2 separate regions of the Homo sapiens genome follow, and region 2 is linked to region 1. A link means that fine-mapping ties the variant in region 1 to the expression of a gene that starts in the linked region. Tissue or cell type: whole blood. Region 1 holds a variant in brackets; the other region holds the start of a gene. All regions are shown on one strand. Distances are between the middles of the regions.

The links. PIP is the estimated chance that this variant, and not a neighbour inherited with it, causes the effect.
Region 2: TCFL5 starts here. The variant in region 1 is fine-mapped to the expression of TCFL5 in whole blood (TOPMed, PIP above 0.99).

The regions. Positions count from the first base shown.
Region 1 is chr20:62,824,905-62,827,505 of GRCh38, reverse strand. It overlaps COL9A3 (collagen type IX alpha 3 chain), which reads right to left. Exons shown (of 32, transcript NM_001853.4): 12 at 2,485-2,538; 13 at 1,636-1,689; 14 at 1,249-1,302; 15 at 686-739; 16 at 212-265. Among named protein-coding and RNA genes, the nearest start is that of COL9A3, 9.2 kb to the right of the region's middle. RefSeq lists a silencer at 2,248-2,307. The variant G/A (reference allele first, on the strand shown) is at 1,131.
Region 2 is chr20:62,860,725-62,863,418 of GRCh38, reverse strand. It overlaps TCFL5 (transcription factor like 5), which reads left to right and starts at 1,597. Exons shown (of 6, transcript NM_006602.4): 1 at 1,597-2,395. The coding sequence starts at 1,749. LOC105372717 (a long non-coding RNA gene) reads right to left here and starts at 1,984. Exons shown (of 4, transcript XR_936989.4): 1 at 1,878-1,984. RefSeq lists silencers at 1,189-1,288, 1,339-1,528, 2,029-2,178 and an enhancer at 1,150-1,804.

The DNA.
Region 1 (2,601 bases):
AGAGCTCCCATGTGGCTCTGGGAGAACGGCTGGGGCCAGGGAGAGAGCTCGGGCCCTCCAGGGTCAGGCTCACCCCCACGCACCCCCAGGCCCACCCAGGCAGCCCCTTGCAGTCTCACTCCCAAGTGTGTCCCCCTCCCCAGCACGAGTCAGGAGGGAAATTGGGTTCTTCCACATAAGGACCCAGGGAACCAACTTCCCTCTCACTTACGAGGTCACCCTTGGGGCCGCGGAACCCTTCTGGGCCCCTCTCGCCTCGGTCACCCTGGAAAGGATGAGGTGGGGCAGGGACAGAGTTAACACCATGGAGTTGGTCGGAGAGTAGGACGGGGGCCCCTCCAGGCCCGGGCGGGGGACAGCCCTCCAGGAGTGGTCAGAGAGTGGGATGGGGGCCCCTCCAGGCCTGGGCCCTCCAGGAGTGGTCAGAGATGGCTGGAGGTGCCAGAGGGACGATGGTGACCCCTCATTCCACGTCCAGAACCAGAAAGGAGGCGAATGTCTCACAAAGAATGGATTCCATTGGTAAGCACCCCCGTACCCATGCCACAAGCCCTCCCAGGGTGTCCAGGGAACAGCTCAGCCACAGAAGAGGGGCCCCAGTGGGGCTGGGGGCGTCTGAGAGGAGCAGAGGGAAAGGGGAGAGAGGTCACGAGGCATGGCGCCCACCGTCCACTGACACACGTACCGCTTTCCCAGGCGCTCCTGGGATCCCAGGCGGCCCTCGGAACCCAATGGGACCCTGCAGAGGAGAGAGGGGATCCGGGGTCCTCTTGTCTGAGGCCTGGCTGGCATCCCCCCAGTGCTCCCTCAGGGGCGGCCCAGACACAAGCAGCCCTTCCTCTAGGGCTCCCCAGCAAGTTCCCCCAAGATGCCACCTAGTAGTCTCCAAATCCCTGCTTCCCCTCCTGCTCTGGCCTAAGCCACAACAGCCCTCACAGCAGCCTGGGACCGTGTGTGTGGGTGTCAGCGAGCAGAGTTCATCAGCCCTCGCCCGGGCACACGCGTGAATAGCCCTCACAGCAGCCTGGGACCGCGTGCGGGCATCAGTGAGCGCCGACTGTCAGCTCTCGCCCAGGCACATGCGAGAACAGGGGCCCAGAGCAAGGCCTGCGCCACAGTGGCGATGGCCA[G/A]AGCCAGGGTGCCGGCTGCTTCAGAGTGTCACTCACGGGGCCCATCTGAAGTCTGGAGGTGCAGACAACCAGGCCCCCAGCCACCTGGCCGGCCCCCACTAGGGGCTGCAGGACTTACCCGGTCCCCAGGGGGCCCGAGTGGCCCTGGCAGTCCTCGTAATCCCCGGGGGCCCTGCGAGAGAGAGGCACAGATGCAGAGGCTGGGGCTGCACCTCCACCCCGGGGAGCACCCAGGGCCAAGGCCCTCGGGGTACCCCTGGGAGCCCTGGTGTCTTCCATGAGCCCTCAGCCTCAGCTCAGGTCCCCCAGAGGGAGGGGGCACCAGCCTTGAGGTCAGCAGCCTTGGCAGAGGTGGGACCCCCAGCCAGGTCGCGCTCCTGTGCCTGGGTGTTGGCCAAACACCCCCCAGCCGGAGCTGGCCCCCTCGGGGGTAGATATGTGCAGGGCTTGATCACTCTGTGGGCTGAGTTCCCATCCCACCATCCTTACCCCTTCCTAGCCTCACCTGCAGCCCCACGCTGCCCGGGAGGCCGGCGGGCCCAGGGGGGCCAGGGTCACCCTGAAACAGAGGGGATAGGGTGGTCAGCGGCCCAGTCTGGCTCTCCTTGCACCTTTCGGTGCCTCCAGTCACCCTACTCAAGCCCAAGCAGCTGGGGGTGTTGCCCCCTTCACAGCTGGGCCTTGGAGGCTCTGTGAAGGGGACACTTGCCCACAGTTCCAGAGCAGTCCCGCGAGTCTCGGTGGCCTCGCCCTGCCGGGCCGGGGTCCGTGGTCACTGTTCCCACAAGGCCCTTCAGCCCTGTCCAGGCCCCTCCTCGTGGCCAAGCAGGGACCCCTCTGATGTGCACCTGGGGTCTCCTCATCTGATCACTCCAGCCACGCTAAAGGGCATCCCAGACCTGGTCCCCCGGCCTGCAGGTGACCATGGACAGACACCCTCCACGGACAGCGACCACAGGTGAGGGGAGGCTACAGGCTAAAGCCAGCCATCCTCACAGATGCCCCTCGCCCCGGCCACAGACACAAACCAGGGAGCTTCCACAGCGAGGCCAGGCAGGACGGGGTCTGTCCAGGGACCCTGCCTAAATCACCCAGCTCTGACCAGCCAGGCCCTGTCTGGAAGACAGGCACAGAAGGTGCCAGTGCAGGTGCACCCATGAAACGGTCCCTCCCCACCGCCGGAGCCCAGCCCCTCCCTCCCGCCGGAGCCCAGCCCCTCCCTCCCGCCGGAGCCCAGCCCCTCCCTCCCGCCGGAGCCCAGCCCCTCCCTCCCGCCGGAGCCCAGCCCCTCCCTCCCGCCGGAGCCCAGCCTCCAGTCCCCAGCTCCTCCCCAGCTGCTGTGCGGCAGCTTCACCTTCTCGCCGTCCTTGCCGACTTCCCCCTGCTCGCCTTTGTAGCCAGTGGGTCCCTGCAAGCAAATGTGGGGTCACTGCCCCACCCAGACCCCCCGACACCCCCTCCCTGGCAACAC
Region 2 (2,694 bases), 36 kb before region 1:
GGCACATGCCACCACACCTGGCTAATTTTTTATATTTTTAGTAGACACGAGATTTCATCATGTTGGCCAAGCTGATCTCGAACTCCTGACCTCAAGGGATCTGCCCGCCTCGGCCTCCCAAAGTGCTGGGATTACAGGCGTGAGCCACCTCACCTGGCAATCATTACTTCTTAAAATGTCTTTCTCCCCATCCTTCCACCCCCAGGGGACTTCAAATCACACTGCTTGAAGCGGCCCCACAGCTCACTGATGCTCTGCTCACTCTCTTAGCCTTCCCTCTCTGTTTTACGTTAGACGACTTCTGTTGCCATGTCCTTGAGAGTTTTAAGTCCTTGCTTTCCTCCTTGGTAGTGTTTTCTGAAACCTGATGTTTTGCCCAAAACTGATATATTATTTTCATGTATACATGTGTGAGTTTAGATTTGCATGGCTGAGCTTTCATAGCCCATCGTTGAATCATTGTAATATATTGGTCTGTGTCTAAACTGTGATGAAATGAGCGAAAGATTCAGACCCGGCTTAGAAGACGATGTGCAAGTCACAGGCCTTTAAGTGTCCTAATGCCTAGACAGAGAACAGACAACCACTGAGTGAGATGGGAATGTGGGTGAGAGGTTAAGTACAGGAATTATTTCAAGATTGCAAAAATAAGTCTCTTAAAGACCACATATTGCATAGTTCCCTTAACAGGGAAGGCCCAGCCTAGGCAAACTCCTGGACACAGAAGATTAGTGGCTGCAGGCGGGGGAGGGGCAGTGTGCTGACTGCTACAGGAGACCGGTGGTGAATGCAGCGGTGGAGGCGGGCCCAGCGCTGGGAATGTACCACCACCGTCGCGCTGTGCATTTTTTTTTTTTTTTTGAGATGAAGTCTGGCTCTGTTGCCCAGGCTGGAGTGCAGTGGCAAGATCTCGACTCACTGCAACCTCCGCCTCCCGGGTTCAAGCGATTCTCCTGCCTCAGCCTCCCGAGTAGCTGGGATTACAGGCACGCACTACCACGTCCAGCTAATTTTTGTATTTTTAGTAGAGACGGGGTTTCACCATGTTGGCCAGGCTGGTCTCGATCTCCTGACCTCCTGATCCACCTGCCTCGGCCTCCCAAAGTACTGGGATTACAGGCATGAGCCACAGAACCCGGCCATGCGCTGCGCATTTTACGCGGATGAAGCGGATGGCCTGGGCACTGTGGACTGTGGGTCCAGGGAGCTGTTTTGACAACGTCTTCATTCCTGCCGCTGTAATGGGGCGCACGTGCACGCACGGACGTGGCTTCTCCCCAGGGTGTCACCGCGTAGGTATCACGCTGATTCCAGCGCAGCCGCCCTCGCCGGGCCTCAGCGGGGAGTGGCCGGGCAGCAGGGGCGTGGCTGGGAACCGGGCGTGGCCTGAGCTGGGGGCGTGGCCTAGCTGTGGGGGCGTGGCTGGGCCGTGGGGGCGGGCCCTCCGCGCAAGCATCCGCCGACGTGGGGCGGGGCCGGGCGTGCGGGCGGTTGGGCGGGGGCGGGGCCGGCGGCGGCGGGTAACGGAGGGGGCGGGGCTGGCGCAGGGGTGGGGTTGCCGTTGCGGGGCGGGGCGGCGCAGGCGCTGTGCGCGGCACTCAGCGGTTTTCCCTCCCCCAACGGCGCGCCGGCTGTGGCCGGCGCAGAGTAGTGCTCGGGCCGGGGGTCGCCTCCCGCCTCCCGCCTCCCGCCTCCCGCCGCCCGCCGCCCGCGTCGCCCTCGCCGCCGTTGGGCCGCGCCGCGCCGCCATGTCGGGCCCCGGACCGCGGGAGCCGCCGCCGGAGGCAGGCGCGGCAGGCGGCGAGGCGGCCGTCGAGGGCGCGGGCGGCGGGGACGCGGCGCTGGGCGAGCCGGGGCTGAGCTTCACGACCACCGACCTGAGCCTGGTGGAGATGACGGAGGTGGAGTACACGCAGCTGCAGCACATCCTCTGCTCGCACATGGAGGCGGCGGCTGACGGCGAGCTCGAGACGCGCCTCAACTCGGCGCTGCTGGCGGCGGCGGGCCCGGGCGCAGGCGCGGGCGGCTTCGCGGCGGGCGGTCAGGGGGGCGCGGCGCCCGTGTACCCCGTGCTGTGCCCGTCCGCGCTGGCGGCCGACGCGCCCTGCCTGGGCCACATCGACTTCCAGGAGCTGCGCATGATGCTGCTAAGCGAGGCGGGCGCGGCGGAGAAGACGTCGGGCGGCGGGGACGGAGCGAGGGCCCGGGCCGACGGCGCCGCCAAGGAGGGCGCGGGCGCGGCTGCGGCTGCGGCTGGACCCGACGGCGCGCCCGAGGCCCGGGCCAAGCCGGCCGTGCGCGTCCGCCTGGAGGACCGCTTCAACAGCATCCCCGCCGAGCCGCCGCCCGCGCCGCGCGGCCCCGAGCCCCCCGAGCCGGGCGGGGCGCTCAACAAGTGCGTGCCCGGCGGCCGGGGGCTGGCGGGGCCCGGGTGGAGGCCGAGGCCGGGGCCGGGGCCGGGGCGGAGGCAAAGGGGGCCCTCGCTGTGCACGCCCCCAGCCTGCCCTCCCGGCGGCACAGGGCGCGGACCTCACCGGGTCTGGGGCCGCCCCGAAAGGCTGTGTGCGCTGTGCGGGCCCCGGGGAGCAGGTACTTCCAGAAACTAAACACCCCCTCCCTCAGTGGCCCCGCCTGGAGTGGGGCCGAGCGCGCAGAATTCCTGGGAACCATGTGCTCCGGGTGGCACTCTTGGAT